Regions from separate parts of the Homo sapiens genome. Here region 2 is linked to region 1. The links come from fine-mapping of genetic effects on gene expression. Tissue or cell type: prostate. Region 1 holds a variant in brackets; the other region holds the start of a gene. All regions are shown on one strand. Distances are between the middles of the regions.

Region 1 (8,180 bases):
TCAACTAGTCTCTTACTGGCTTTGTGGTTTCAGGTCGGATGAACCCTCTCCCCAGTGGCTAAAGGAATTGAAATCCAAGAAGAGGCAAAGTCTTTATGAGAACCAAGTTTGACCAGGTATGAAGGGGCTCTGTTGGGGAACCTGGGAAGAGCCCTGCAGTCACAGGAATGGGGAACTCAGGGGGGCCACGCTTCAGAGACTGGGGCTGTTGTACCCAAGGAAAGAGGCTGTGTAAGGGGAAGAATGAGGGGTGGGGGGTGTTCTGAGTTCCTGTAAAGAGGATGGTTATGTCTGTTTCCATTTAGGGAGAAAACAAAGCTGGGCTGCCTGGAGTGGGTGAAAGGTACCAGGCCAGGAGGCAGGTGACTGGGGCTCTGGTCTCATGCACTTGGCTGACCCTTCTAGCTGCATCACAGTCCCCTCTGATAAAACAAAAGGGCGGGGACATCAGAGGTTAGCTTAATTAGAAATGGTTACTTTTTTTTTTTTTTTTTTTTGAGACAGAGTTTCGCCCTTGTCACCAAGGCTGGAGTGCAATGATGCAATCTCGGATCTTGGCTCATTGCGGCCTCTGCCTCCCGGGTTCAAACGATTCTCCTGCCTCAGCCTCCTAAGTAGCTGGAATTACAGGTGCCTGCCACCATGCCCAGCTGATTTTTATATTTTTTGTAGAGATGGAGTTTCACCATGTTGGACAGGCTGGTCTCGAACTCCTGACCTCAGGTGATCCATTCACCTCTGGCTCCCAAAGTGCTGGGATTATAGGCGTGAGCCACTGTGCCCGGCCAGAAATGGTTACAGTTTTTATAGGGGGAGTGTTTCATATACAACCTATGTAGTTAAAAATGAATTTGAAAAAATATACATTAAAAATTACGATTAGATAGGCCCTGGTGTAAGTTGCAAATGACTGAACATCATGAACTTAAGTTTCCTCATCTGTAAAATGGGTTAGCAGTGTCCACACCACCGAGTTGTCCTCAGGGCTCACTGAGAATGCACCTGTGGTGCTTGACTGAGTGCTGCCTGTTTCTCCTCAGTATAGGAGCTCATGGTACGTGCACCATCAAAGTCAGCGTTGATGTGATGAGCACAAGAGACTCACCATCCCTTATCCACAAAGCCAAATTCCAGAAAGCCCTGCAAAACAAAGCTTTTTCCTAAGTCAGTGGTAAAACCTGACCTGAGTGAATATAATTCTACTTTGACTCTATTTTCCCCACTTTATATGAATGTTCATAATACACTGCAGGAATATTATCTGCTTGATTATGGTGGTGTTACATATGTATATATATACATATGTGTATATATTACATGATTATGTATGATGCATGTGTGTATGTATAATAAATACTAAAAATTATAAATTCCCAAATAAAACTATGCTCAAGGGATTTGGATAAGGGATCGGGACCTGTGTTTATTTTGTGTTTGGTGCAGTACATGTAATATCTCATTTAAGCCTCCAGCAACCCCTTTGAGGAAACTGAGGCTCAGAATTGAGACTGGAACCCTGACCTGACCCTAAATTTCATGTTGGTTTCACTGTATTCCATGCCTGCCACCCTCCTCACCTCCCCTTTCCACCCAACACAAAAAATCTCTTTTGTGACCTTAGGCTTCTAGGGGTGACTTCATTGGAGAATATCAGGTGAGATTTTAAGGACTGAGGGTAGAGAGCAATGGAGCCAAATGTTCCCACTGCTGACACCAGTACTGTCCCTTCCTCTCCAGGCAGGGAACACTGCCACATCTACGTAACAGAAGCCTTAACCATCAGAACCCGCAGACGAGGCCGAGCTGCTGCCGTTTCTTCCTGCACAACGCTTACGTGCCTGGGCCCTTCCCATTGGATTGAGAACGCTATCCAGTGCCCCTGTCCTCGCCAGGCTCTCCCTGGATCCAGACGGGAAGACCCAACCTCCAGGAGCACTCGCTCATCTCCCCAGACAGCACTTCAGGCTGGGAAAGGAGCCAGGCTGCCCAGAAACGTCCATGTGGGTGGTTTTGCTTTTTATGTAAAAATTTGCATTTCTACCTATTTTAGACACCTTCATCAGCTCCAAGAACATCAGTGTGAGGCTGGAATTGTCTCCCCAGGTTCTGAAAAACACCTGCATTTGTGAAAGCACCTCCTCACCCGACCCCGGGGCAGGTCTTTTTTTGGAAGGACATTTCCAAGGAAGATCAAACTGTTCATTTTCTGCTGTAGTCTCGGTGCAGGGTATTACCGCTGGGTTGAGGTTTTCTATTCTTTTTTTTTGGTGAGTTCCTTCTTCCCCTTGAGGAATCAGCAGTTCCAATTTTTAAACATACTCTCCCTGATTATGTGTATTTCTCTTTCTAGTGGGGCTGTGTGCATCGTTGGCCTATGTTATTGTATGTCATTTTTGTTTGCTTTAGAAGGCGATAAAGCAATAATTCAGCTAATTTTCTTTGAAACTTGATAGGTATATATGTGTTTACGTTAAAGGACAGGAGGAAAGATGTGCGAATAATTTGTTCTGAAGTATCCAGTCACCTCAGGTTATCTTATCCCTATCCAAGCTGTTTAGAAGTTATAATTGTCACTCTTGTATTTATTTCCATGGCTTCTTTTCATTTGAGCTCTGGTTTCGGTAGGGTGACCTTTGCCCCTTGGCCTTAAGGGTTCATAAACTGCAGCCCAAGTGGTGGTGCCTTTGCTTATGAATCATCAGACCTGCCCTAGTAATCTTTTTCTCCAGAGTCTTCTTTGAACATGACGTGGGCTGCTGGCATGGAGGAGTTGTTCCAAACTGGCCTCAGAACAGATGCATGAATGAAGGGTACTTTTTGCTTTTGCTCACCTCATTTTCCTTCATCTTTCTTGATGAATCCATTATTTGCAAATGCTGTCAAAACATGCTTTCCTTCTCCCTGGCTACCTCTCAGGAGTTCATTTGTCTCTCTGTCTCAGCTTCCTCCCTCATCTTCCTTTACCCCTCTTCTCTGTCTTAGTGGGTGGATGGGCATGGATAGAAATCCTCTGTTTCTTTAGGTTAGGATAAACACCTGGGCCCTGGTGAGGCAGTTGCTGTTCAGCACCAGGGACAGCAACTGCAGGGCTGTGAGGCCGGAGCCCACCTTGTGTCCTGTTCGATGAGCTTTGGTTACTGATGAGCAATTGCCAGA[T/C]CATGTCACCCACCCAGCCTTTTACACCTGGGAGCCTCATGCATCTGGGTTTGGGAGTTTGGCCCTGCTGATGATAGTTTGTTTTCTCTTCATTCCCTGAATTAGTCATCAGTTCTCCGTGGCCATTTGGGGATTCATGCCTGCAACTGCTTCAGTCGAATTCTTTTTTAAAGATCCAGTTTATGTTTTATAATAATTTTGATCTTATGGCTTTCAACGTCAATAGGATCCCCTTTAAAAATACCCTGCTAGTGTTTTGTTTTGTTTTGTTTTTCTGAGACAAGGTCTTACTCTGTTGCTCAAGCTGGAGTGGAGTGGCACGATCATAGCTCACTAACACCTGGGCTCAAGTGATTCTCCCACCTCAGCCTCCCAAGTAGCTGGGACTACAGGTGTATGCTACCATGACCAGCTAATTTTTAAATATTTTTGTAGAGACAAGGGTCTTACCATGTTGCCCAGGCTGGTCTCGAACTTCTGGGCTCAAGCAATTGTCCCTCCTCAGCCTCCCAAAGTGCTCGGATTACAGACATGAGCCACTGCACCTGGCCTGAAACACATTCCTAGTCTTTTGATCCTGACTTCTTATCTGGGCTGCTGTCTCTCTTTCCTTCAGGTGGAAAGGACCCCTTGGTACCATCTCAAGCAGTAGGAAAGGACCTGCTCTTACATATATTGATGGTCCTCATGCAAAACTCTCAATTCTTAATTAGTCATGTCTCAGCTCAAGGATATCAGACAGGAATGAAACACACTTGAAAATGAGATTGACCTGGAGATTTTTTTTCCCTAATCTCTCATACCTTAATTGGAAAAATAATCAATTAATTCTATGTTAATTAGGATATACAAAGTTCACCCTCCTTGAAAGTGACTAGGGCAAGCCCTGAAGATCTTCCTCACCTCCTTTTATTTTTCTATAACCTTGTCTCCTCCAGCACCACAGGGAAGACAATCACAGTGGGTCAAGAGCGACCCTCTTTCACGTGGGCTCTGCCATGACCTCTGAGACCTGCTTATGATCAGTGCAATGAAGTTAGAAGTAACTGATGATTGGGAGCCTTTGCAGATAGCTGGGCAAATGGGTGATTTACTTATCCCCATTCTAAATGGAGTGAGCTCTCTTTGAGGCTAAGCAAGGAGGCGTTGTATGCTAGTTTCTAGACTTTGCCTGGAGACCCCTTTGGAAATCTGTCTTCTTTTTAAACTCACTTAATATGCCTTAATCATCTGTGTGTAATGGAGTCATCCGCTCCTCAATCTAACCCTCCTCCCCTGGGGCTTTGGCTGTCCTCAATGAGAGTTTCATGCAGAATGGAAAATCCTCTATATGTACAATCTCTCTCCCCCTCATTTCTCTTCCTCCTCACCTCCACCACCCCTTTGCACATCAGCATTTTAACAGCTGATCTTTTGAGAAGCCTGTATCTTTTTCCTCTTCAGTAGATACCCTTCTTCATGGTCCTTTGCCTAATCAAACAGAGGCTTTTGGCCTTTGAAAATCCATGACAAGGCCTCAGAAATCAGTGTTGTGGAGGATTACTCCATGCCACCGGAGAAACTCTGGTGAAAGAGAAACCTCGTGGTCTTTAGGATGTTGGGATTTTGAGTGAACCTGACCTGATAGCCTCAGGATTCAGGGAAAGGACAATCAGATGGCGGTGTTTTCCAGGGGGACGCGCCAAATCATGTGGTTTCAGACAATTGTGTTTGCCTTTGTGCCTCCCTGGAAGGGAGGCCAACTAAGGGTATCACCAAGAAGCCAAAAGAGAAATAGGCATGAGCCTGTGGTTTTAAACTTTACAGGCTGGGCAAAGGATTTAGAAAGACCCTTAGCATGATTTTCCTAAAAGAGACCTTAGCTGCTCCAACCTGGTGCTGATAGCTGCTTTGTTGATCTATGCTTTAAAATTTTTCTTTATAATGCCCCCAGATGGCTCCTGGAACTAGTCGTAATTGCAAACTGTAAAAATCCCTCCTCCCCAGTGTAGATATTTAAACCAGAGTAAGTGATGGGGAGACATTCTGTGGTCTCTGAATGTGCCTTCCCCCTCACCGTGTGTTAAAACACAAAAGCCGAAGTTCCATGGCATCATGATTCCGAGGGGCTGGAGGGATAGGACCCACTCCACATCTAAAGGGGATCTGCTTTGGGCTCGGTCCCATTAGCGAGTGGGGGACTCTTGCTGTGTGCTAAGAGGCTGCTAGGACTCACCCAGTTGGAATTCTGGGTGGGCTCAGGAAGTTTAGAGCCACGTAAAAAGCTGGTAGGCATGAGTGTGCCAGGTCTTTGCCAGCCTGCGTCTCCTTTTGCACCCCCCAATCCAGAGTTTGCTTTCTTTTGACTAAATTGGCTCCTGCAGGGGGAAGGGCAGAAAGCTAGGCCCTCTGCTCTGGAAAGTCGGCCTGAGGTTTCCGGCAAGTTAACCCTTAAAATGGACACCCCTCAGCCCGCCCTCCCCTTTGGCCTTCCCAGAATCTCCTTCAGTGGTTGCTCTCACACCTGTGCCATAACATCATCTTCCATGACTTGGACGGGCACTTCCTTGACAATTCCTATTGGCATCACACGGGCTACAAATTATGCTGTTTTCTAAAGAATTTGAACTTTTTTTTTTTTCTTTTCTTGAGACACGGTCTTGCTCTGTTGGCCAGGCTGGAATGCAGTGGCACAATCATAGCTCACTCCAGCCTCCAACTCCTGGGCTCAAGCAATCCTCTCATCTCCACCTCCAGAGTAGCCTAGATGACAGGCGCACATCACCACGCCCAGCTGATCTTTTAAATCTGTTTTGTAGAAACAGGATCTCACTATATTGCCCAAGCTGGTCTTAAACTTGGTCTCAAGTGATTCTACTGCCTCAGCCTCCCAAAGTGCTGGGATTACAGGCCTGAGCCACCATGCCCAGCTGAATTTGAGCTTTTTAATAATCTCATTCCACATAGCCTTATAGATCCTGTAAATAGGGGGGGTCACAAAAGTAATATATTGTGTTATGGAAGATAATTTTGTACTGTGCTGTTTCCTAAATCATACCAATATCCTAAAGTCATGCACTTCCCAGATGATCGTGATCCTCCAAATGCTTTGTAAGATGGGGCAGGGCGTGGAAATATATATATATACACACACACACAGAGACACACACACACACAAGTATAGTATATATTTTCCTAACCTTTCTTCTGGGTCCTTCCTCAGATCTTTGAGTCACGATAGAAAAGGAGCTCGAGTTCTTTGTGTAGGAAAGTTAAGCTTCCTGCCTGCGGTGTTCTTGCAATTGCCTTAGGAATTCACAAGCTCTAGGAGTTCTGAACGGAAGGCAGACGAGAGGCACTTTATCCAGTCCCAGAAAGAATCTCTAACCGTGTGACTGAGAAGTCATCTAGAAAAACTTATATTTTTAATGTAAAAACAAATGGGGCTTACCAGACCTCACAGAGTATTGGACGTCTACAAGTGCTTTTATATTTTGTAACTGTAAAGAAGTTTCATATGCACAGAAGAGCAGTTGGAAATCTGGTCGACTGCAATAAAACAAGATGACCTTTGCATGTACAAAGATGTTGCATTCAGACTATGAAAATAGCAAATAAAGCTTTGGTGCAAGTTGCATTGGAGAAGTCGGTGCGTCCATGTGTGAATGAATAGAGTCTCCCATGCATGCAGGCCCTGACTGGGGCTGGCTGAGTCAGTCTGTCCTGTGCTGAGCTGTGGGCCAGCCAGCGAGAGGGCAGAGCTGGGGTCCTGGGAGAGGGTGTCCATGCAGAATGGGAGGCCATGGAAACAAGGCAGGATTTCCATTCAGACTGACAAGGGGTTGAGTCCTCCTCCTGCCACCCTCTGGCTGTGGGATTTCTTTTAAACATTGGTTCTCCTTAGCTATACAATGGGAGTGGTGATCAGGACATTTTTGCAGGTAACAGTTTAAGGTGGTGGTTCTCAGCTGGGTGGATTGTGCCCTCCAGAGCATGTCTGGTAATGAAAGGAGGCATTATTGGTTATCACAAGAAGGAGAGAAGATGCTCCAGGAAGTGAGTAGAGGCCAGGGATGCTGCTCAGCATCCTGCAGTGCACAGGACAGCTCCCACCCCGACCCCACCACAAAGAATGACCCGACCCCAAATGGCAGTAGTGTCAAGGTTGAAAAGTCTAGATTGGGGAGATGTGGTACATCAAAGTGCTGAGCGTGCAGTAGGTCTGCAAGGTCCTCAAAGATGTGATGGGAGGGGGAGCCACGCCATCCCCACCTCTGCCTTCCTCCTTCTGTCCCAGCTGGTGGCAACTACATCCCAACTCAGGGGGTCCAAACCGACTGCTTTCTGTGACCTTCAGCAGGAAGTAGCCCCTTGGCTTGAACTGTCCAGAGTAGGCAGGATGCTGGGAATAAAAGTCAAAAATAACAGATACTGTGCGCAGTGCTTTGCTTGCATGACCTCCCAAAATGGCCCAAGTGGAGAGAAGGTTCTCCATTTATGGTGAGGAGACAGTAGCTCTGAGACCTTCAGGAACTCGTCCAAGGTCACACACATCTGCCTGACTCAGAGTCCAGCTGTCATCCACAGCATCTCACCACCATCTCCCTCTAGGGGGTACAGGGTAACTGTGTTTTTGTTTGTTTGTTTGTTTTTTGAGACGGAGTCTTGCTCTGTTGCCCAGGCTGGAGTGCAGTGGTGCGATCTCAGCTCACTGCAAGCTCTGCCTCCTGGGTTCACACCATTCTCCTGCCTCAGCCTCCCATGTAGCTGGGACTACAGGCACCCGCCACCACACCTGGCTAATTTTTTGTGTTTTTAGTAGAGACAGGGTTTCACCGTGTTAGCCAGGATGGTCTCGAGCTCCTGACTTCGTGATCCGCCTGCCTCGGCCTCCCAGAGTGTTGGGATTACAGGCGTGAGCCACCGCGCCCGGCCTGTAACTGGGTTTTATGCTGACTTGAGGATTTTAGCCAAAAACAAATACCAACAACAACAAAAGAAAACCTTGTTAACTCACTCCTTTGCTCCAATATAATTTTATTCAT
Region 2 (8,180 bases), 25 kb after region 1:
TAATACCTACTTCAAAGATAGTTGTGAGGATTGAATTAATGGAACCAGACAGTTTCAGGGCTTAATCCATAAAGCCTAGTCCTACTACTCACTAGCTGTGCAAATTTGGGCAAGTGGCTTAGTCTCTCTGAGCCTCAATTTTCTCTTTTATAAAATGGAATGATCAATAAATACAATACTTACATCTTGAGTTTGTTGGGAGGATTAAAAAAAGATGAGTATGGACAGTGCCTGACTCATGTCAAGCTCTGATACAATCGAAATGTTAGGAATTCTTTCTTATTTATAAGGACACAGCCAGGTCTTGAATCCATTCATTTACTCAACAAATATTAACTGAGGTCTATTATGGGCTGACCTGTGTCCATAAAAGATATTCCAAAGTCCTAACCCCCAGTACCTCAGAATGTGACCTTCTATTTGGAAATAGGGTCTTTACAGAAGGAACCAATTTGAAACAAAGTCATCAGGGTGAAGTTGCCTAGTGAAGTCACCTAAGCCAACATGACTGGTATCCTTATAGGCACAGAAATTTAGACATAGAATCAGCCATGCACTAAGGGAAGATGATGTGAAGATACAGGGAGAAGACAGTCACGTGATTAAAGTGATGCACCTCCCATCCAAGGAACATGAACAATTACCGGCAAACACAAAGGGCTGGGAGAGACAAGGAAGGACCCTCACCTAGAACCCCTGGAGCAGGCATGGCCCTGCTGACAGCTTGATGTCAGGCTTCCAGCCTCCAGAATTACACAACAATAAACTTCTGGGGTTTTTTGGGGGACATTTTTGTGGTAAAATACTGCATAGCATAAAATTAACCATTTTAACCATTTTTAAGAGTACAGTTCAGTGGCATTGTTATGGGACCATCACCACTATCCATCCCCAGCTTTTCCATCATCCCAAACAGAAACTCTGTACCCATTAAACAATAACTCCCCATTCCCCGCTCCTCCCAGCCCCCAGTAACCTCTATTCTACTTCCAGTCTCCATGAATTTGCCTACCCTAGGTAACTTATGTAAGTGGAATCATACAATATTTGTCCTTTTGTGTCTGGTTTATTTCACTTTGCATAACATTTTCAAACCTCATCATGTTGGAGTCAGAATTTCCTTTCTTTTTAAGGCTGAATAATATTCCATTGTATGGATAGACCACATAGTGTTTATCCATTCATCCGTTGATGGACATTTGGGTGGTTTCCATCTTTCGGCTATTGTGAATAATGCTGCTATGAACATGGGTGTGTAAATATCTCTTCAATTCCCTGCTTTCAATTCTTTGGGGCACGTGCACAGAAGTGGAATGGCTGGCTCATATGGTAATTCTATGTTGGATTTTTTTTTTTTTTTTGAGACAGCCACACTGTTTTCCGTAGTGGCAACACCATTTTACATTCCCAATTTCTGTTGTTTTTAAGCCACTTAGTTTGTGACACTTTATTACAGCAGCCCTGGGATTTATTTTATGTTATTTATTTATTTATTTTCTTTGAGACAGAGTTTTGCTCTTGTTGCCTAGGTTGGAGTGCAATGCCATGATCTTGGCTCACTGCATCCTCTGCCTCGTGGGTTCAAGTGATTCTCCTGCCTCAGCCTCCCGAGTAGCTGGGATTACAGGCATGTGCCACCATGCCCGGCTAATTTTGTATTTTTAGTAGAGACGGGGTTTCTCCATGTTGCTCAGGCAGGTCTCGAGCTCCCAACCTCAGGTGATCCGCCTGGCTTGGCTTCCCAAAGTGCTGGGATTACAGGCGTGAGCCGCTGTGCCCGGCCAGCCCTGGGATTTTAAAACAAGTACCTACTATGCGTCAGGCACTGGGCTCTGGAGATACCATGGTAAACCAGGGGGACAACTTCTTTGCTTTTGTGGTGCTTATCTTCTCATTGGAAAGACAGAAAATAAATGAGTAACAGAATGTTGGGTAGTGATGAGTGCTGCAAAAGGAAAAGCCCAGCTAGGGGGCTGGGGCATGTGTGTGTAGTGTGTGTGCATGCGTGTGCATGCATATGTGCATTAAGAAAATGAGAGACAGGGGAAAGCAGGTATACTTGACCCAGTCTCCAAGCCTCAGATTGGATCAAGACACAGCCTGGGCTGCAAGGAAGGTGTGTGCACTAAAGAAACATGAGTAAAGGCCGGGCGCGGTGGCTCACGCCTGTAATCCCAGCACTTTGGGAGGCCGAGACGGGCGGATAATGAGGTCAGGAGATCGAGACCATCCTGGCTAACACAGTGAAACACCGTCTCTACTAAAAATACAAAAAATTAGCCGGGCGTGTTGGCGGGCGCCTGTAGTCCCAGCTACTAGGGAGGCTGAAGGAGGAGAATGGTGTGAACACGGGAGGCAGAGCTTGCAGTGAGCTGAGATCGTGCCACTGCACTCCAGCCTGGGCGACAGAGCGAGACTCCATCTCAAAAAAAAAAAAAATAGAAAAGAAATGTGAGTAAAGGCTGGGCACCCATGTGGCAGCGATGGGGCCAGTGGTAGGGATCTAAGAGCAACTCACTCTAGGACAGTGGTTAAGAAACAGGCCGGGTGCAGTGGCTCATGCCTGGAATCCCAGCACTTTAGGAGGCCAAGGTGGATGGATTGCCTGAGCTCAGGAGTTTGAGACCACCCTGGGCAACATGTCAAAACCCTGTCTCTAACAAGATACAGCAAAAAAAAGAATTTAGCTGGACCTGGTGGCGCACACCTGTAGTCCCAGCTACTGGTGAGGCTGAGGCAGGAGAATCGCTTGAACCTGGGAGGCAGAGGTTGCAGTGAGCCGAGATCACACCACTGCACTCCAGCCTGGGTGACAGAGTGAGATTCCATCTCAAAAGAAAGAAAGAGAAAGAAAGAAAGAGAGAGAGAGAGGGGGAGAGAGAGAGAGAGAGAGAGAGAGAGGGGAGAGAGAGAGAGAGAGAGAGAGAGAGAGAGAGAGAGAGAGAGAAGAAAGAAAGAAAGAAAGAAAGAAAGAAAGAAAGAAAGAAAGAAAGAAAGAAAGAAAGAGAAAGAAAGAAAGAAAGAAAAGAAAGAGAAACAGCCAGGGGCCTTGAGAATAAAATGCACTCTCCATAATTGGCCTCCCTGGCCCTGCAACATCAGGCCCTGCCCACCTTGGCCACCTGGCACAGGCCCTATTTGTCACATGTCATGCTTTAGCTTTGTTAACCTGTTTTCAGGTCTTCTTGAAATACACCATGCTGGTTCCTTGTATATGGACCCTTTCTGCTTGGAACTGTCCCCCCACCCTGTTCCCAGGCTTCCTCTTCTCCATCCCTGAGGGATGCGCTACCTCCCAGGAGCTTTTCTGAATGGCCTGGGCTGGCGTAGGTCCTCTTCCTGACACTCCCCTGGAACAGAGATTGTCACCAAGTGGATGCCCAACAAATATTTGTTGAATGAATAAATGGGTAGATGAATGAAGCCCAGACTCTGCCAAACCACCCTTCTTTACTTGTTCTTCCCCAGGCCCACTGAGATGTTCCTCTGTCTGCCATGCCTCACGGCCTGACTGACCGTACCAGTGAACCCAGCGTACCCCTGGCCCTGGCAGCCGGACGGCTGATGCATGCAAAGCGGGCATCTCCTTGCCCAGCCGCCTGACCGCCCTGGCGCGGCCGAATCTGAAAGCTAATGACATTATTGTGCAGAGACACAATGTCTGTGGGCATTTGCTGACCCGAGCTTTGGTGAGAGCTTAATCCAGCATTCTCACCCTGCTTTTCGCAGGAGCACAGCGGTCACTCATCTTGGCACCGGCACTTCTGGGGAAGGTATAAATGCCACCTCCCGCTGGCCGAGCTTCACGGCACTCGCAGGGGCTGGTGTCACTGGTAAGATTGCCTCTCTTGCTTGTCTTCCCTTCTTTCTCTCATCCTCACCCCTGTCCGCAAGCATGGGAGCACCCAGATTCTGACAAGTGACTTTGGGCAGAGACTTCAATGCTGTTAGCCTCAGTTTTCTTTTCTGGTAACTGGGAAGGGGGTTAAAAAGCCTTCTTTATTGTAAGGATTCAAGAGAAGTTAGGGGATCATCCAGCACAGTGCCTGGCACACAGTGGGCATTGGGGCAATGTTCTTTATTATTAATATTAAACAGACTATCAGCATCCTTGTTTCGCCAGTCGCTGAGGAGGAGAATGTAACTGAGGGTTTTGCAAGAATCAAACCAGTGACAGTTCAGCATTGTTTCTAGGTGGGTGAGTCAGTTTTCCTCCACATCTGCAATTAGGGGGCACCCACTCTGTGCCTAGCCTCTGGGAGTGCTAGGGGATAGGATGCAGCCACAGGTATGTGACAGGTCCCAGCAACAGGTGATTTCAATGCCACTAAAGCATGGTAGAAATGACTCTAATAATGCCACAATTGCTGCCATTTGCTGCATGCTGAGTGTGTTCTGGGACCACGGCCAAGTGCTTCCGGTTTTATACATTACATAATTGAATCCTCACAACCTGTTCACAGGTATTATTAGACATCATTACTGTCCCCATTTTATAGAACAGGAAGTTGAGGCATAGGGAGAGGATGAGACCTGCCCAGAGTCTCAATTCTGGCAGGCAGCAGAGACTGCTCCTGAACTGGACCAACTGAGCTTCTTCAGTCTGTGAACACTCAGGACTGGGAAGTGATATGGCAGGACCTCAGGCACTCTGACAAGCCCAGAGGGCTGGTTTCTTGCGGGAGAGCAGTAGATTTGGCTGCCAAGGTGCTTAACTGCATTTCTTCCTCCTGGGAAACATCCAGTATTGGCCTTTCATGTGGAAGGGGCTTCTGGAAGCTGGCGTTATCTCTGAAGAGGGAGGCCAGGCTTCCTCTCTTACCCCTGGGGAAACACAGCCTGGTTTGACCACCCCTTCTGCAGGAAGGGGGAAGAGGCTGACAATTTTCCAGGCTTTTCTGATGTTCTCACTAGCTAAGGCAGGTCTACCCTGCTGCCTGCCACAGTGCCTGGATTTCTACCGTCGCACCCATTTCTTCTCTTTCTTGTAATGTGGGTTCTGTATCAGATGATTTCACTAATGGGGGAGTAAAACCAGTGGCAGAGAAGAGAAATCTAGGTACCAGGATGGGGAGAGGAGTCCCAGGGAGAGGGTGGGAGAAGGAGCAGGGGAACAGGGAACTTTGTGAGTTCCTAAACTGGGCACCACCACACCACCAAATACAGCCAATGCATAGGTTTTGTTTGTTCCACACAATTTTATTTAAGAAATTACTGCATAAAGGCAGAAGTTCTGGGATTGACCATTCTATATTCTGTGTGGTATCCATTGTCTGGGGTTGAGTGTTGGGAACCCACTTTGGACCTCATTTAAGCTCTAGTTTATTACTGCTCTCTTTCTTTGAGTAGACCTCGTTTTTCCCTCCTCCTGCAGCTGGCCTGGATAGAAATAAATGAAGCTAAGGACAGAAGTTGAAGTAGCTGCTTACGGACCCCACAGCTCTGGGACAGTCTGAAACCAGGAGAAAAAGAGAATGTTTGGGGCCAGAGGGGAGTGGTCTCAAGGCCCCACAGAGTGAAAAAGCCAGTGGCCCCTCCAGGTCCTCACTGCTGCTTCCCATGTCTTCCAGGTCATTCCTGCACAGGACAGTCCACCATGGCCTCAGATCACCAGACCCAGGCGGGCAAGCCACAGTCCCTCAACCCCAAGGTGGGTACCTCTCAGAGGAGGGGGCATGCAATGCTCCTCCCCCAGACTTAGTTGCCCTTCTGTAAAATGGGCTTGGCATCTTTCTTCATGGGTACCCCCTCTCGACCCCTGCCCCTCTCTGGGACTCAGTCTCCTCTACCCACACAGTTGGAGCTGATACTGAAAGTCCCTCCCCAGCCCATAGCTGGCATGCTGGGATTCCCAGTACCAGCCTCTGGCTTTGGAGACTTCAGTTTCTCTCTCCCTTACCTGTTTTGCCACACCCTATTGTCTACAGGGCTCCCTGAAACTGGAGCAGACCCTCATTCTCAGTCAGAGATGGGATTAGTAGATGGAAGGTGGGTGTGAGTCCTGGCTCTGCACCTGCTGTGTGATCCGGGCCAATTATTTGATCCCTCTGAGCCTCAGTTCCATCTCTATAAAAGGAGGAGTCAGATTTATTGCACAGGGAAGTTGTGAGAGCCAAAGAAACCAGGCTCAGCCTAACACCCGGCCTGGGGTGCGCATCCACCTAACACCAGCAAATAATGCCGCCTTTGATTTCTCATCCACCTGTCCACCCAAGGGCGGCAGGATCTTATCCCAACGTCAGAGGCTTGTCACACCCAGTCTGCCCTCAAACCTCTATCTAGGCACGGCCACCTGACTGCCCTCCTGTGCCTCCCTGCTTTGGTAGCCCCGGGCACAGGTTCCTTCAGGAATGGCCCCTTTGTCTGACTCAGTGCCTCCTGGGCCAGGGAAGCCTGAGCAGATACAGCCCCTCACCTGCTCACCCCAATCTGTCCCTTTTAGGGCTTACTTTCCAGAAGAAGGACAGACAATAAATAAATGAATATATGATTTCCAGTAGTGAGAAGTGCTACAAACAATTGTAAACTAGGGGAAGGGGCTCCTGAGAGTCACAGTGGTTGTGTTAGCTCAGGTGGTCCAGGAGGGTCTCTCTGAGGAGCTGACTTTGAGCAGACACCTGGGTCAAGTGAGGAAGCGGCTATATGAAAATTGGGGGTGCCTTTGCCAGGCCGAGGTGGGAGGACTGTTTGAACCCAAAAGTTTGAGCCCAGCCTGGGCAACATAGTGAGATCCCATCTCCACAGAAAAATGAAAAATGGGGGTCAGGGTTGATGAGAGCATCCAGACAAAAGGAACAGCAGGCGCAAAGACTCCGAGGTGGGAATGAACTGGGTGAGTTTGGAAAAAAGCAAGAAGCTCTGTCCACTAGACCTATAATGTGAGCCACATAGGTAATGCAAAATGTTCTAGTAGCCACATCATAAAAAGTAAAAAGAAATAGGTGAAATTAATTTTCATATTACATTTTATGAAACCCAATATATCCAAAAGATGAGCATGTTAATGTATAATCAATATAAGAATTATTAGGCAGATATTTTACATTATTTTTTCCATTCTGAATTTTCAAAATATGATGTGTATGTTACGCTTATAGCACAGTATAAGTAATAATATGGACTAATTACATGTGCTCAGTAGCCATATGTTACTAATGGCTGCTGTGTGGGACAGTGCAGGCTTAAAGGATTGGATAATTTGTAAAATTTTGCCCTCTACTCTATTGATTAATAACAACGCTATTGAGCTCCTGGGTCCTCTGAGCTTCTGGGCTTTCAAATGCATGGAGAAACTGCTCTTCCTCACCTGCCTACCCCTATTCAGGTGGGCACCCCAGGCCTGCTACCTCAGAAACTGCATTTGATCAAGATCCCAGTGTTGTGTGCACAGGTTAGAGTCTGCAAAGTGCTGCTTCAATTTCATCTGCATCAGACAAGTCTGGGCTTCAATTTCAGCTCTTCCACTTATTCACGTGGGATCTGTAGCATGTCTTTTAATTAACATAATTATGTCTCCCACAAGCAGCGCAAATACTATGTGCTAACCACCCACAAGCCCTGGTCTCCCAGGCCAGGGTAATAATAAACTCTAGCCCCGAACTTCCACATTCTTGAGTCCCCATTTGACAGATGAGGGACCTGAGGCCCAGAGTATTGAATTGCTTTTTAGGTTTGTGCAACTGGATGTAACAGAGGACACATTGGAGCCCTTGTCTCCTGACCCTATCTCTGGCCGAGTCAGTGACCGTAAAGGGCTGGGTCACTGACTGTAAAGGCTGGATTGAGCCCGTGGAATTTGCCTCTAAGCCCTGTGCCTTTCCCTTTCTTTGTGTGGCTAATCCCAGGCCTGGGAGAGAGGGCTATGTTTACCCAGCCTGTGCTGACCGTGTCGATTCTGTAGCTGCCCCGACTGAGAGTGTGCTGACCTGAGCCCATCTTTTCATCCAGGGGCAGTTTGCTGGGGAAGTGTGGCTGGAAAACCTCTGCCTCCAAAATTCTCACTGGAGGCCGGGCGCGGTGGCTCACGCCTGTAATCTCAACACTTTGGGAGGCCGAGGCAGGCAGATCACGAGGTCAGGAGATCGAGACCATCCTGGCTAACTTGGTGAAACCCCATCTCTACTAAAAAAATACAAAAAAAATTAGCTGGGCGTGGTGGCAGGCGCCTGTAGTCCCAGCTA

Which allele goes with the higher level. Positions count from the first base shown, and alleles are read on the strand shown. Sizes are in standard deviations (SD) of each study's normalised expression.
For the expression in prostate of the gene that starts at base 3,806 in region 2, C is the low allele of the variant in region 1 and T is the other (moderate effect, 0.45 SD a copy in GTEx).

The links. PIP is the estimated chance that this variant, and not a neighbour inherited with it, causes the effect.
Region 2: it holds the start of CRYBB2, and the variant in region 1 is fine-mapped to the expression of CRYBB2 in prostate (GTEx, PIP 0.91).

Annotation. Positions count from the first base shown.
Region 1 is chr22:25,190,669-25,198,848 of GRCh38, forward strand. KIAA1671 reads left to right here. Exons shown (of 13, transcript NM_001145206.2): 12 at 34-116; 13 at 1,738-6,780. The coding sequence ends at 112. Among named protein-coding and RNA genes, the nearest start is that of CRYBB3, 5.1 kb to the right of the region's middle. The variant T/C (reference allele first, on the strand shown) is at 3,157.
Region 2 is chr22:25,215,834-25,224,013 of GRCh38, forward strand. It overlaps CRYBB2 (crystallin beta B2), which reads left to right and starts at 3,806. Exons shown (of 6, transcript NM_000496.3): 1 at 3,806-3,833; 2 at 5,571-5,650. The coding sequence starts at 5,597.